Regions from separate parts of the Homo sapiens genome. Here region 1 is linked to region 2. A link means that fine-mapping ties the variant in region 2 to the expression of a gene that starts in the linked region. Tissue or cell type: sun-exposed skin. Region 2 holds a variant in brackets; the other region holds the start of a gene. All regions are shown on one strand. Distances are from middle to middle.

Region 1 (7,603 bases), 49 kb after region 2:
AAGCTCATTTCTCGCAGGTCAAGTGCCAGCTCACTCCACCTCCTCCCATCCAGACCCCTCTCCCATCCATGCACCCCGCCTGTCTGTGCCTGCATCCCCAAGGTCCCAGCGACCTCCGTGCACAAAGAGATAGAAAGGGCGAGCTGCAGCAGGAAGAGGGGAGGGAGGGAGGAAGAGAGAGCACCACAGAGGAAGGCAGGTCCAGGTGACGGAAGGGACAGCTCAGCTGCCCCTGGCCCTGGTCGGACGCCAGCCAGCCGCTCGCCCTCCATCTCAGCCCCACCCTCCCCCAGCTGTGTGTCCCTGCCTTATCTGAGCCACCAGCCCAGCCCCACCTCACCCACCACCCTCTCCTCTCCACAGCTCCCCAGGATGTGGGTGATAAGACCCGCCCACTGGGCCCTCCGAGTTTGTGCCCACTCATCCTGGCGCGCTCTTCTTCCAGGCAGAAACTGATCCAGACTGTGGCTCCCCTGGACTTTTAGAAATGAAGCCTCCGCAGGCAGAATGGCAACTTCGGGGTGGAGGGCCCCTGGTCTAGCTGTGCTCCTGTTTCCAGCCAACCACTACCTGCTTGGTGGCAGCCCCTGTATACTTGGGACTTTCATACATCGTCTCTAAACCTCACACAAAACGACATTCTCCTCATTTAGAGATGAGCAAAAATGAAGCTGAGAGGTGAACTTGCCGAAGGCCCCCCAAATAGAAGCCAAGCCAGAATCCCTACCCCGGCCTGCCTGAGGCCAAAGCCAAGTGCTCTTTTCAATGAGTACCAAAGATCCCAGTTCAATCAAAATGTGGGACTTGGGGGTCCCACGTGCTAACCTTAGACAGTGGAGCCACCCAGAGTCCTGCTCGTTGATGGCATCTGTAGAAGAGCAGCTGGGAGTGTGGGGGCCTCTGGCTCCGGGCCACACAGGCAGCAGGGTCCAGCCAGGCTGGAGGCCGGCTGGTGCAGACAGTAAGTGAATTATGAAACGAGGCAAGTCATCCAAGCAGGCTGGCGTCGGTGGGCAGGGAACTTTGCCCCGCTTCGCCTTCTCCTGTTCTGTTCACAGTGCGACTGCCTGGCCCTCTCTCCCTTTCTTCCTCCTGTCTTTCTGCTTTCTCTTCTGGTCCCTTTTCTTGGCTTTCTTCATCTTTTCTCCCTCCCTCCCTCTTTCCCTTTCACCCTCTCCCCTACCCAGCCCCACCCCCGCAGTTACTGTGGCAACAATTCAATGCCAGAAATAAAGGCAGAATCCAGCTAGGTCACCAGTTCCCAAAACAGCATCCTGGGTGGGGAGGGGCAGGGAGGGTGGAGCAGTGCGGCGCTGCAGGGCAGGGGCCAGGCGCTCCCATGGGTGCTGTGCATGCGTGTGATGTGGGTGGGGTAGGGCACCTTGCTCCCCGCACCCCCCCGCCACTGGAAAAGGACACCAGGAGGCTGAGGCCTGCTCTGGGCCAGTGGCTCATCAGAGGTGTCCCTTACTTAGGCGAAGCCTGAACTCCAAGTCTGTCCTAAGGCTGGCAGAGCCTGGGGACTCCCTCCTCTTCTCCCACTTTCTCCCTCTCCCCTACTCCAATGTTTTTTACCGTTGTGTCTGCTGGGATGAGGGTTCCCCTAACCCAGCACTACAGGGCACCCTCTCATACTCGGATAAAGGACCAGGCCTGGGTGGGTGGGGAGCCCAGAGTCCCCCTGCTCAAGGCCTGCCCTCCCTTGTTCTCTCAATAACAACAAAACCGGGCCCAGGTGCCCCCTCCTGCCTCTCTAGCCCACCCAGAGACGCATCTGTGCAGCCATCTTCTCCTAGGTCTCTCTCTGGTTTGGTTTCTATGTGCCCTCTCCACCCACCCTCTGAAGAGACCCCGCTTTCTGCTTTCTGCATCCTGCAGCCCCCTCAGGCGGACTGCTTCCCCTCCATTTATAGCTGGTCCTGTTGTACAAGTGGGACTGGCAGAGCTGGGGGAGATGCAGCCTCAATTCAGCTTTCTGGATCCCAGGGCCTCCCTGTTCCAGTCCCACAACACCCAGGAGCTCTAGGAGAGGGATTCTGCAGACATCCACCCACGGGTGGACAACCTCACCCAGGAGTCTAACGCCTGACCACAGAGAGGCCGGCAGCACGGACACAAGATGGACAGGTGGGCACAGGCAGAAGCGCCCGCGCTGAAACCGTTGCAGGACGCATGCACGCGGGGAGACTCCGAAGCCCTGTGTGCCAGCTCATGCCCCCACTCTCCCATCGAGGCCCCCTCACTGTGACACATGGTGCTGCCAACACCCGCTCACACCCACCCACCGGTCCTCTCCCTGGCATCCATCCCAGAGTAGTGCACGTGTACAGCAACATACACAGAGCCCTCCACTTACCCAGCTCTGGAGGCCTTCCCTGGGCTCCCCATTCCCACAGCCCAACTGCCTTCCTTGTCTTGGACCTGTCCCTGCTCCCCTGACTCTCACAACCAGGCAACTGGTCCCTGGAAGGGACACACTGGGTGTGTCTGCCCAAGAAAGGGGGCTGGACCTGCTAGGCCCTGAGGGACAGAGCTAGGGAGGGGGAGCCCCAGAACCCTGTGGGGGCTGCATGTCTGCTCAGCCCTGGCCCCTTCAAGCACCCCAGCGGCGGGCACAGGGGGAGTACTGGGCTTGGGCTTGCAGCTGCGCCCTGCCACAGCCTCACTCTTCACTCAGCCCCACCCCAGCCTGGCCAGCCACTGGCTGGGGGCAGGCTCTCCTCCCACTCCCCCTAAAAAGCAGGCTCCAAACAAACAGCCTCAGGCCCCTAAATGTACTGCTCCAACCCCCAGAGCATGTGGAGTGGTTTTGGGGAGGCCAGCGGGCCAGTATTCAGCAGAGAGGGAATGCTCCCCTGCCCACCCCGTGCCCCCACAGTCCATCCCTTCCATTGCTGGCCTGCTCAGCTAGGTAGGCCAGGCAGAGATGCTGGCAAAGAGGGGATTGGGCTGGGAGCAGTTCTCATCCTTGGGATGAGAACACCCCAGGCCCTCTTCCCCAGATCAGAAGGTTCCATTAGATCAGGCCCAGCTGGTCCCAGGGGCCGGCCCATCCTCCCACTGAACAGGGCCCACAGTGGGCTCCCCCCAGATACCCTGCTGCCACCCAAAGCCTGGCTCGCCAGCAAGCGCTGTGGCCCAGAGTGCCCACAGAGGGGAGGAGAGGCGGAGACCCTGCCACCTACCTCTTCCCAGACAGTGTGGCCCAGACGCTCTGAGGCCACAGAGGCCCGAGAGGCGTAGGCCAGATCCACGGGCTGTCACTTCCCCCAGGAGCCTAGGTAATAGGTGTCTCTTCCAGGAACCCCGCGGCGCTTCCCCGGAGCACAAATAACAGGAAAAATGCCGGCTTAGGGTGGGTGGGCGGGGTGGGAGCTGGCGAAGGAGGGGAGCTGGTCTCGGCTGAGCGGTCTGATCTCCCCTCTGGGCCCCCACCCTCCTTGCCCCCACCCTGCTTCTCTGCAACGCACGGCCGCCTGGATCCCCCGGTGCTGGGGAGTCCTCGTCTGGGGGCGGGAGGGCGGGCGGGCTGCTGGCTCCCCCACGCCCTCCCCGCGCCCTCCCCACTTCCAGCTGATAGCGTGTGGCTGGCAAGGGTGTGTGTGTGGATGTGCGCGCTCTTCCACCAGCGCTGCAGCTCAATCCATTTCAAACAAGAGGAGCATTAACCCAGCGTCATGACAAAGCAGAATCAGCCAGCACTGTCCTCTCCCTTTCCCACACCGCAGTCTGCAGCACTCACACGCACACACACACCCACACGCACCCAGAGCCCCTCAGCCTCCTCCTAAACAGCCAGAGTTCAAGTTGCTGTGGGCGGTGGGTCGAGGGAGGGGGCTACTGATGACCCAGGCGGACAATGCCTGCTTTCTCCAGGCACCTGCACCTCCTACCCTATTCATGACCACCCCACCATCTGACAGCAGCAACTGAGGCCTCTGGGGCCCAGCCTCTTGAGGTGGGGGTGCAGGCACAGGCCAGAATTGGTTACCCAAGGATGAGCTCTCTCCTGGGAGGGTAGAATGGAGGGATGCAACCAGGTCCTCAGTACTGAGACTTGAGCTGGCCCCTCAGTAACCTGAATCCCCTGGGAACTCCAATGGGATGCAGCAGAGAGAGAGAAGGACCCCATCTCTCCCTAGGGTGGCTTCATGAAAAAGGAGCTTCCTGCCTGGTAACCCCTGGGTCCCAGCACAGAATTTACAGGCATGTGCCTTCCCTGTCTCTAGCAAAGCCTCAACCACCCCAGGAGCCTCTCATTGGCCTTTCGGGCCCCCTGGGCAGGATGGGGAAGGACAACAAGCCTTGCCCTCGACCCTCGCCCTGGCCCCAATGTCCTCTCCACCTCCACACCGCAGACTTGCCTACCTAGGCAGCCCTCACCGTTGCCCTGGCAACCCTGCCCCCAGCCGGTCAGCTGATGGTATCAGCTGTTGTTGGGGAAATCTAGAATCTGGGGAGGGGGCTCTGGGGTGTCTGAATGGAGAAGCACAGGGGGAGGGGCTTGAGGGAAGAGGCCAGGAGGGGACAGAAAGTATCTGGCTGGTGGGGACAGAGAGGACAGTAACCTGAGGGATGGGCTCCAGAGAGAAGGGAGGAAGGAAGGAGGCAGGTGGCTGAGAAGGGAGACAGAACACAGGCTGAGCTGCTGCAGCCAGGCGGGGGTGGCTGTGAAGGTAGAGAAAACCTGGGGGTGGGGGATGAAGCATCAGATCCATGGAACTGCAGAGAAAAAGGCCAGGAGAGTGATGTGGGAGGGGGCATACCTTCAATGTGGCAGAAAGGGGCACAGCCTTGGAGGAGGAGCCACTCCAGCCATCGCTCCACAACCAGCCCGGCCTCAGCCCAGCCTCTCGGCTTTCTGTACCTTCAACCCCACCCTTACTTCCCTCTAATCAGAGTCTGAGAGACAGAGGGGAAGCCCCAGCCCCACTCCAGCCCTAGATGATCTCTCTCGGTCCCTCCAGCGGACCAGGTACTTGGGGCTTTGACACCTCAGCCCTTTAGAATTCCTGATCCCCGCCGCACCCCGACCTGGGTTCCTCCCCTGTATTGCCCCTCCCCCACCAGGCCCCACCCCAGGAGAGCTGTCTTCTGGTGCAAGGGTCCCCAGAGGTAGAGTTGGAATGAGCTGATGCCAGGAAGGACAGCTGTGGCCAGGGGCCTGGAACGAGGTGGGTGATGAGGAATGGGTAGAATCGCTGGGCCTGGGAGGAGGGGTGCCTCCTCCTATTGAAGCCAGTGCATGTAGGGCAGAGTAGGGGGAGTCAAGGGGAAAGGGCGGAGGGGAGAAGGAGGGGAGGGTGCTCGGTACCTTCAAGGGCCCAGGGCGTGGGGCAGGAGCGCAGCAGCCTCCTCGGTGACATACACCTCCATCCCTCGGCGCATCTCCTCTCCACCTCCTGTTGCCAAGACAACCTGCCGGCAGCTCAGGCCCGGCTCAGCCGCGGCAGCAGGGAGGGGGGGAGGAGGAAGCTGTGCCTCCCGCTGCCTCTTCCTCAGAGATGGAGGGAGGGGGCCTGAGGGTGGGTCCTCAGTGCTGGGGCTGGGGGTTAGGGGACAGCTTCAGGAGCTAGGGTGCCCAGTGAACCCCACCAAGTACCCCATCCCCCCACTTCCTTTCATAAGGCTCTAGAATTGGCTTTAGGGGTGACCCCAGGAGAACCCTAATTCAGGGCTGGAGAGCAGGCCAGTCTTGAAGAGTATGCAGCACTGGGGAGAGTCCCCACTCCAGGAAGCCCAGTGTGGAGCTCGGGACAATGACAGGCAGCAAGGCAGGGACAGTCCTTGTGCTGAAGGGCCAGAGGGGTTGCTCCGGCAGGGTTCAGAGGCCCCTGGGCGCTGGCTGCACTGGGCACGCGGCTGCGGGCCCCACACCTCTGCCGTCTCTGTGAGCACCTTCACCTGGTCCCAAACCCTCTCTCATTCCACCTGAGAAAACTCAGAGCAAGGGACAGCTCTCTTCCAATTCCTCAAGGCCCCATTCCCACTGTCCCCCACCATGCCTGAGTCTCACATTCTATCGGAATGTCCCTCCATGGGTGGGGCGGGCGGGCCACCTTGGGCAGGAAGAGTGCTCAGCCCAGCCAGGCCTGGACCCAAGGGGACTGCAGAGTGAGGGCTCCCTCTGTCGACCTGAGGAGTGGTAGCTGCCAAGGTCATTTTGCTGCCAGGGATCTGGGCTGTGTGTGTGTGTCTGTGTGTGTGTGTGTGTGTGTATTGGTGGTGGGCGTTCAGAGGGGAGGCAAGGGGACCCTTCTCACCCATGCCATCCTCTGACCCTACCTCGTCACTGTCCTTGTCCCATGGGAAGACTCACTCTGCCTCCGGCCTCCTCCCCCTGGGAAGGCCTCTGACCTCTCAAGGCCAGCTGAACTGAACTCCCCCATGGCTTGTCTGAGAGGGGAGATTCTCCCCCTTGAAAGCTGGCAACACTGAACAACAGGTGCCTGTTGGCTCAGGCCCCAGGCGGGTGGGCTTCCTCAGCTCTGCTCCATACTGAGCAGGCAGGAGGCGGCTGCCAGGGCTCTCATACCTTTGGAAGTTCAGGAGTTCTCAGGACCTTGAGGATGGGCGCTTGTGTCCACAACACGGGGCCAGGATTCCTGTATCTCTCAGGCAGGGGGGTCCCAGGCCCCCCGACGCCCCGTTCTTGGCTCCTTTCCCCACAAGGTCACTGGTGCCAGATGTCCTGGGTGGACTCCGGCCCTGCTGCCTCCTCCCTCCCCCAGGCCCTGTCGATAGGCTTCTCTGTCCACGTCTGGTCTGTCTCACTCCAGTGCCCCCCGGCCCCACCCTACACACCAACCTGCTGGGCGGGGGAGCTATCTAAACATTAACTTCGGGAGAGGTGGAGCCAGGGCACCTGGACACTCAGGGAGGAAGGAAAGGGTGACAGAGACCTGAAGAAAAGGAAGGATGAGGGCCCCAAAGCCACCATTCTCACCAGAGATTGGGAGCCATGTGCCCCTGCCTCCGGGCATTGGACTCTGCTGCCCAGACCCTAGAGCCTCCACTCCTTCAGCATGCTGCCACCAGACCACTGCATCTGGCCCCCGCAAAGCCCCTCACCATCTCCTCCCTGCCACAGCATAAGGACCAAACTCTTCATCATTTGATCCAATCACTTCCTGCCACTTCTCTACACAAATTTCAGCTCCAGCCAAGTAGACGGACTATTCCCCTTCCCTGGAGCACACCTCCCATTTTGCCGCCTTGATTCTCGTGCCCGTTTTTCCTCTCGTCATTTTCCGCTCTGTGCATATTTTCTCCACTGAAATCATCTGAAATCATGCAAACCCCAGACCTTCCACAAAGCCCCCGCAAGCACCCTGGCCTGTGCTCTCTCCTGCCCCAGAACTCACGATGCCTGGGCACACTTTGCAGGCAAAGTGTGGAAGCCGGGCAGAATCTAGAGTGCAGTGCTCACTAGCTGTGAGACCGTGAATGGCCTGGCATTTCTGAGTGTGAACTCATCCACATGTGCTACATGGGAACATCTCACTGCCCTAAAGAAGGATTGCAAGCAAGTATGCCCTGAGTGTGGCCTAGCACATCTCCTGAGCTCGGTACATATTAGTTTCCTTATTCCCAATAATTCTTA
Region 2 (7,603 bases):
GCTCCGCAGCGCACTCTAGCCCGCGGCTCGGCTCAGTCGGTCTGCGAGGATCCGGCCCGCCGCCCCCCGGGGGACCCGATGGCCTCGGAGGGCCTGGCGGGGGCGCTGGCTTCCGTGCTGGCTGGCCAGGGGTCCAGCGTGCACAGCTGCGACTCGGCGCCGGCCGGGGAGCCGCCGGCGCCCGTGCGGCTGCGGAAGAACGTGTGCTACGTGGTGCTGGCCGTGTTCCTCAGCGAGCAGGTGAGCGGCCGCCCCCGGGCCCGCCGGGCCTCGGGAGCGCGCAGCCAGCCCAGGTGGGGACAGAAGACCCAACGGCCACAGCCAGCGCTGCCGCGTGCGTGGCGCTTCCCAGTTTTGCAAAGCACTCCCACTCCCACTCGCATCTGTGTCCTGCGTTCGTCCCGATATGCAGAAGAGGAAACTGAGGCCCGGGGCCTGTTTGTCTCATCCGACTAGGCCTCATTCCTTCCCTTCCCCAGAGTCTAGCGGAGTGCCCAGGGCCCCTCAGATAGCAGTGGCTCAATCCCGGCTTACCTTCAGGCCTTTGGTGCTGATGCCTGTAGTGGGCGATGTAATGACAACTAGACGGGGCCAGGGCCATAGGGCGGGGTTGTACAGAGCGGAGGTGGGGGTCGTGTTTCAAGCCAGACCCCAGTGTGAGGACCCATCACAGTTTGTAAACCACGCCGTTGGAGGCGAGAGATACACAGTGGCAGGTACAGACGCAAATCAATCCAAGACAGACAGACACATGGTGACCCTCACTCTGGGGCCTCATCTCCAGCCCCTGAAGCGGCTTCCAGGAATCTCAGCCCTTCCTGAAATGGAAGTCTTCCTAAATCCAGAGAGAGACGAATTGCAGAGAGGAGAGGGCTGCAGCCCCCAGCGACACGAGGGCAGGTCTCCTGGAGCGCTAGCTGGGTTGAGAGTGTCCACCCAGAGGGGAGTCTTGGGCGACTGTGTTTGAGATGCCCCCTGGTCCCGGGGCGAGGGAAGGCTGTGGCAGGAAGTGAGGATCCTCTCTCCTCTCAGGATGAGGTGCTACTGATCCAGGAGGCCAAGAGGGAGTGCCGGGGGTCGTGGTACCTGCCTGCGGGGAGAATGGAGCCAGGGGAGACCATCGTGGAGGCGCTGCAGCGGGAGGTGAAGGAGGAGGCGGGGCTGCACTGTGAGCCCGAGACACTGCTGTCCGTGGAGGAGCGGGGCCCCTCCTGGGTCCGCTTCGTGTTCCTCGCTCGCCCCACAGGTATGGCCCACCTGGAGGCAGTGTGAACAGGGCCAGTTGACACCTTTCCCCCAGCTCCTCGGTGAGGTGAGCCCCTCTACAGCCAGTCCTGTTATGGCTGGCACAGCCTGGCATGGGCAGATTCCAGCCTTTGGGCTGGGGGCCTCTCTCCTGGGTCAGGGATGTCTGTTGACTCTGCCAGAGCTGCACTTCTCTCCACACAGACCCTCCCTGCCCCATCCCCCACATCTCCCCCAGGTGGAATTCTCAAGACTTCCAAGGAGGCCGATGCGGAGTCCCTGCAGGCTGCCTGGTACCCACGGACCTCCCTGCCCACTCCGCTGCGAGCCCATGACATCCTGCACCTGGTTGAACTAGCCGCCCAGTATCGCCAGCAAGCCAGGCACCCTCTCATTCTGCCCCAAGAGCTACCCTGTGATCTGGTCTGCCAGCGGCTCGTGGCTACCTTTACCAGCGCCCAGACAGTGTGGGTGTTAGTGGGCACAGTGGGGATGCCTCACTTGCCTGTCACTGCCTGTGGCCTCGACCCTATGGAGCAGAGGGGTGGCATGAAGATGGCCGTCCTGCGGCTGCTGCAGGAGTGTCTGACCCTGCACCACTTGGTGGTGGAGATCAAGGGGTTGCTTGGACTGCAGCACCTGGGCCGAGATCACAGTGATGGCATCTGTTTGAATGTGCTGGTGACCGTGGCTTTTCGGAGCCCAGGGATCCAGGATGAACCCCCAAAAGTTCGGGGTGAGAACTTCTCTTGGTGGAAGGTGATGGAGGAAGACCTGCAAAGCCAGCTCCTCCAGCGGCTTCAGGGATCCTCTGTTGTCCCAGTGAACAGATAGAGAGGTGGGGGAGGTGACAGGGAGCTAGGCAGCCGTGCTCCCTCCAGTGCGGACTTGTCTCCCTCTGAGGGAGGCAAGAGGCTGGCGATCAGGGATCTTGTTGCATTGGGAGCAGGGGCGGCTCTCCTGGTCCCCAGGAGAGATGCTTTGAGGAGCATTCCTCTAGATTGCACAAGGGACAGTGCCTTTAACCAAGCGAGGAGTCCAAAGCTCAGGACCTGACTACCCTGAGGGCACGCTGACGCCTCTTCCCAGGGGGATGGGGAGCTTTCTGCACCCCCAGTGGCATCTCCTCATCACGTTCTGTGCCGTCCTTGGGAAAGGCCTGCATTCTGATCCTTCCAGGCCCTTCGAGCATGGAGGGGCACTGGGGAAGGTCCCCCGAGGGAGGAGCACGTTGCTGAGTAAAGAGGTGTTACTCACCTTGCCTCCCTGCCTACACGTCTCTGTGGGGAGAAAGTGATGGGGACTACTGTCCAGGAGCTGCTGCTCCCCTCGTGTTACCCACAGGCACCCATGCCTTTCCCAGTGCACTGACAGTGCGGGCCAGTCTGCTGTCCAGCACGGCCCCTGGGGCTCCCTCCAGTTGGCCTGCTGGCCCGGGATGTGACTCTGAGGGGACCCATCCCTAATGAAACACAGCTCTGAGCCCTCCAAGGGTTGGGCAGTGGGCGGCCCCAGAGGAACTTCAAGTGGGACAGGAGCTGCAGGTGCTGCCTCTGCTCTCTCCTTGAGCCTCCCTGGCGCAGACCACTCCCCCTGGCTCTCCTGCCTCTGCCTTTTCACAACTTCAGCCCATGCCAGACCAAACCTTTTCTTCATTTCCCCTCAGCCTCGCTGAATCATGGTAGGATTTTTTTTTTTTTTTTTTTTTTTTTTTGCTAAGTGGCCGGGCACAGTGGCTCACACCTGTAATCCCAACACTTTGGTAGGCTGACACAGGTGGATCACTTGAGGTCAGGGAGTTCGAGACCAGCCTGGCCAACATGGCAAAACCCCATCTCTACTAAAAATACAAAAAACTAGCCGGGCATGTTGGCAGATGCCTGTAATCTCAGATACTTAGGAGGCTGAGGCAGGAGAATCGCTTGAACCCCGGAGGCAAAGGTTGCAGTGAGCCGAGCTCCAGCCTGGGTGATAGACTTCGTCTGAAAAAAAAAAAAAAAAAAAAAGAACTTTGGCCAGGCACGGTGGCTCACACCTTTAACCCCAGTGC[T/CT]TTGGGAGGCTGAGGCAGGAGGATCGCTTGAAGGCCAGAGTTTGAAGCCAGCCTGGGCAACATAGTGAGACCCTGTGTCTACAGGAAAAAAAAAAGGCCAGGCAAGGTGGTGCACACCTGTAAATCCCAGCTATTCAGGAGGCTGAGGCAGGAGGATGGCTTGAGCCCGGGAGGTTGAGGCTGCAGTGAGCCATGCTCAGGCCACTGCACTCCAGTCTGGGTGAGACAGCAAGACCCTCTCTCAAAAGAAAAAAGAAAAGAAAGAGGAAAAAAAGAACTTTACTGAAATTTAAGCAAAATCAAAGGAAATGAACAAATAAAATATATCAAGTGTTCTACGGTAGAGATTTCTGATTCTGAGCAAGGAAACACTAGCACAGGCTCCCCTTCTGAGGGCCAAGATGACCTCCAAGGCCCCTTTCCCAGCCCCCTCCCTGCCTCTCTTGGCTGCCCTCCTTTCTGGGCCCTGGAGGGTGGTAGGAATCCTTGTACCCTCTGAGGACAAATACCTCACAAATGATGGAACCAAACCCCTTTGTTTCAGTTCACTTCTCTCAGTGTCTAAGGGACCCACTGGCCCATATCCAGTCAGCCGGGCAATGACATTTGGCTATTTGCCCCCATTATTTAGCCTAGTAGTTTCCAACCCTGGGCACACGTTAGGGTCACCTGGGTTTTTTTTTTTTTCCCTCAAACAGGGTCTTGCTCTGTCACCCAGGCTGGAGTGGAGTGGTGTGATCCTGGCTCACTGCAGCCTTGACCTCCCAGGCTCAAGTGACAAGTGATTCTCCTGCCTCAGCCTCCCAAGTAGCTGGAACCACAGGCGCATTTTTAAGCTTTTAGTAGAGATGGGGTTCTCACTATGTTGCCAAGGCTGGTCTTGAACTTCTGTCCTCAAGTGATCCTCCCGCCTCAGCCTCCCAAGGTACTAGGATTATAGGCGTGAGCCACCATGCACAACCACCTGGAGAGCTTGAACTCTGGGTGTACCCCCAGCAACAATAATTTAACTGGTGATGGGGCACTGGGCATTGGGATTTTAAAAAGCCACCCAGTGATCAACACGAGTTGAGAGCCAACATCTGGCTCCTTTTCCTCCACGTTCTCAGCCTGCCCTCCCGCAGTCTCTTGGGGACCCCCCTCAGAGGATCCCCCACCCCTCCACACACATCTGAGGACAAAGGGTTTATTTATGTGTTAACTTTTCTTTTTCCCTGAGAACACACCTGTGAAATTTTTTTTTTTTTTTTTTAGACAGGGTCTTACTCTATTGCCCAGGCTGGAGTGCAGTGGTGCAATCGGCTCACTGCAGCCTTGAACTTAAAGACAAGGTTTTAAATATCAGGCCTACTTTATGACTAAAACAGGCATACAACACGCAGCATAAACACACCCAAATGAGACTTGCACACAGATGCTCCCACGTGGTCCATTCCCTCATGGTGTCTCCGGGGTGGGCAGACTCTCCGCTGCAGGTCAGCCCAGCAGAAGTGGCACTGCTCCGCCAAGAGTCTGGCTCCTGGCAGGCGCTGAGGATCAGCAGATCTGCACTGCCAGAGCCTGTCTGTTTACCGCCCACCCCACCTCCCTGCTGCAGCGCTAGAAAAAGAATTTGTCTTCCTTGGGGAGGAAGATGGGCCCGAATTAGCAGTGGAGTCCTGGGCAGAAGGTGGGGAAACTTGGCCAAGAACAGAGCCACGGTGTCCACGCAATCACACCATTTATTGCTGTGCTGTCCGGGGAAGACACCGTGCAAATGCCAAAGTGCACTGAGGAGAGGGGAGGGTCTGTGACTCCCAAACCCTCGAATATTTTATGAATCTAAGAGTCCAGACGCAGTTCATCCACGGAGATCTGCGCCCCGTCCACACCAACACCCACGTTTGTGCACCCACATGTGCACGGTGCTCTTCAGAGCGGCGAGGTCCTCCCCCGCGGGGAGGAATGTGGGAGAGGCAGAGGTCACTGAGTTTCCTCCTGTTTCGTGTCACCTCTTGGCAACCTGTGCCTGGCTTCTAGAAGCGGCATGGGCAAGAAAAGGAAGCAAAAGAGGCTCTGGCCTGCTCCTCCTTGCCCAGGAGCAAAGCCAGCAACTGTGTAGTCCCGCTGTGAGGTAATGCCTGGCGCCGCCCGTGTATTCCTGCAGGTCAAGACAGATTCGGGCCGGGTGGGGTGGCAGCCCAGCCACGGAGGGCATGCAGGGAGAACACCACCAGGACTGGCTGCCTGGGCCGCAGCCACTTCCCGCCAGGCTCAGGGGCCTGGAGTCAGGGGGCGTCCTTCCCTTATCTGTCCCCTGAGCTCCCTGGCTCCCCAGAAGGGTCTTCTATCAAGAACACTGGGCCCTGGGCAGAAGGGAGGGCAAGGCCCGGCCTCCCCTGGTCTCTGACCTCTGCCCAGGTGCTGTGGACCTGCTGAGACGGGTTCAGAAGGCGCCAGAGAGGAACCAGCTGGACCTGAGCCTGGCTCCTGGGCCCGCTCCCCTCCTGGCTGCAGCTGCACCAAGGTTCTCATTAGCAGGGGCCCCCGCCTGGGTGCGGAACATGCTTTGGGCATTTGCCATGAGGCGGCTGGGAGTTTTGCAACAGTTTCCAGGGGAGCAGAGCAGGAAGAGGGGCTTCCCCGACGATCCCATTCACTGCTCCTTCTCCATGGGCCAAGCCATGTAGGCAGGGGACAAAATGTCAGGTCTCAGCAGCTCCCATGGTACCTAATGTGACACAGACAAGGCTCCAGGCCCCATCTCACTGGCCTGGGCTCCTGACCAGTCTCGGAGCCATCAGCTCACTCCCCATCTTGCCCCTGGAGTTGAGTCACAGGCTTGGCCCTGGCCACAAATGGCCAGTACAGAAGGGGCCAGGCACACAGCACATGAGGGTCTGGGGTCTGGGTGCTCACCTGGCTGTCACCCAAGCTCCTCCAAGAAGGCCCCAAGGACCTTGCTGCCTGGAAAGCCATCTGTTTGGCTCCTTGGCACCTGGCATGCCCATTCCCTGAAACCCAGTCTGGTGTGGTCAACATGCCGCAGTCTCCTTGAGTGAGCCCGGGAGCAGAAGCCCCATCCCAGGAGGGGAGTGTGGCGGCAGTGCCAGGCAGGAGGCAGCTCTGGGGCAGAGGTGTGGACAGGAGTCTCCCACCGCCCTGGTGCTGGCTCAGACCTGCCCTTCCGGGGCTGGGGAGACGTTCTGGCGAGGATCATGTGGGGGAAACTTGACGAAGGCAATGGCAGCCAGCTCCTTGCAGAACTCCTCCAGCACCACCACGCCCTGGAGGAGGGTCTGGTGGTCCAGCCTGAGGGGAGATGGCACAGGGGGCATGGCTGGGTGGGGGCAGGACTGTGCCCAGCATGACAGCCCAGCATCCACGAGGCTTGACCCTGTGGCCAGCCACCTCTCCTCCAGAGGCGCTTTCCACTCTCCCACCCCAAGGCTTCACCTGGCACCCTTGGTACTCACTGCTCCCCAGGAGCCTGGCCCGTCAACTGCTTGCGCACCAGGAGCAGCTTGCCTGGGAACTGGGGTACCCTCTGGATTCTCTGCATCAAGTCCCCGATCACCTACAGCGGGAATCACAGGGGACTCAGATGGGGCCAGCAACACCAGTGAGTCCCCTGGCCCTGCCACACCATGCAGAGCATGGGAGACTGTGCTTTCCCTGGCACTGGCAAGGGTGCCCACCCCTCCAGCCCCCAACCACCTGCCCCGTTCCCTTTCCCTGATGTCCCCTCCACCTCACTAGGCACACTCCCTTGGGCCGAGGCGTCCTCACCCTCACCAACACGGAGAATAGGCTCCTGCAGCCGGGGGCCAGGCTGATGTACGGATCCAGCAGGTACTCATGAATATGGGGGTGGGGGAAGAGGGCAAGCCGGGACAGGACCGAGGTCACCTGCAGGTTCAGGCTGTATGGCTGTAGGAACATGGTGGACAGAGCCGAGGGCTGGCAGGGCTGGTGAGTATTTTTGCACTCCCCCAGCAAGGTGCCTGGCCACTGTGAACGTGTGTGGGGGTGGGAGGCTCACGTGATGTGTGTGTGTCATGGATTCCATGGGGCTGAGGGCCAGAACGTGTTAGGACGTGTGGAGCAGGGGTGAGACGGGGCTTCCCACCTGGGGAAAGGACAGGGGTGGCACCAAAGAACCGAAGCAGAGGCAACCCTGTGGCCAACCTCTGCTCTTGAAGGACCCCAGAGGCACCAGCCTGGAGTTCTCCTGGCCCAGGCCCACTAGCTACCTGATCCAGAATCCGGGACATGCGGTCAAACAGCACTCGGAGGAAGTGGCCCTCGAAGAAAGGTCGCTCGGGCTCA

Evidence for each region. PIP is the estimated chance that this variant, and not a neighbour inherited with it, causes the effect.
Region 1: it holds the start of DMTN, and the variant in region 2 is fine-mapped to the expression of DMTN in sun-exposed skin (GTEx, PIP 0.98).

The regions. Positions count from the first base shown.
Region 1 is chr8:22,052,719-22,060,321 of GRCh38, reverse strand. DMTN (dematin actin binding protein) reads right to left here and starts at 3,508. Exons shown (of 16, transcript NM_001387751.1): 1 at 3,186-3,508. RefSeq lists enhancers at 1-465, 1,429-2,390.
Region 2 is chr8:22,101,776-22,109,378 of GRCh38, reverse strand. It overlaps FHIP2B (FHF complex subunit HOOK interacting protein 2B), which reads right to left. Exons shown (of 17, transcript NM_022749.7): 14 at 7,528-7,603; 15 at 7,064-7,204; 16 at 6,751-6,851; 17 at 4,468-6,586. The coding sequence ends at 6,448. It overlaps NUDT18 (nudix hydrolase 18), which reads left to right. Exons shown (of 3, transcript NM_024815.4): 1 at 1-240; 2 at 1,033-1,246; 3 at 1,484-2,501. The coding sequence starts at 79. The coding sequence ends at 2,079. Among named protein-coding and RNA genes, the nearest start is that of NUDT18, 3.8 kb to the left of the region's middle. RefSeq lists silencers at 1-386, 4,935-5,082, enhancers at 846-1,619, 2,016-2,160 and a cis regulatory region at 2,088. The variant T/CT (reference allele first, on the strand shown) is at 3,296.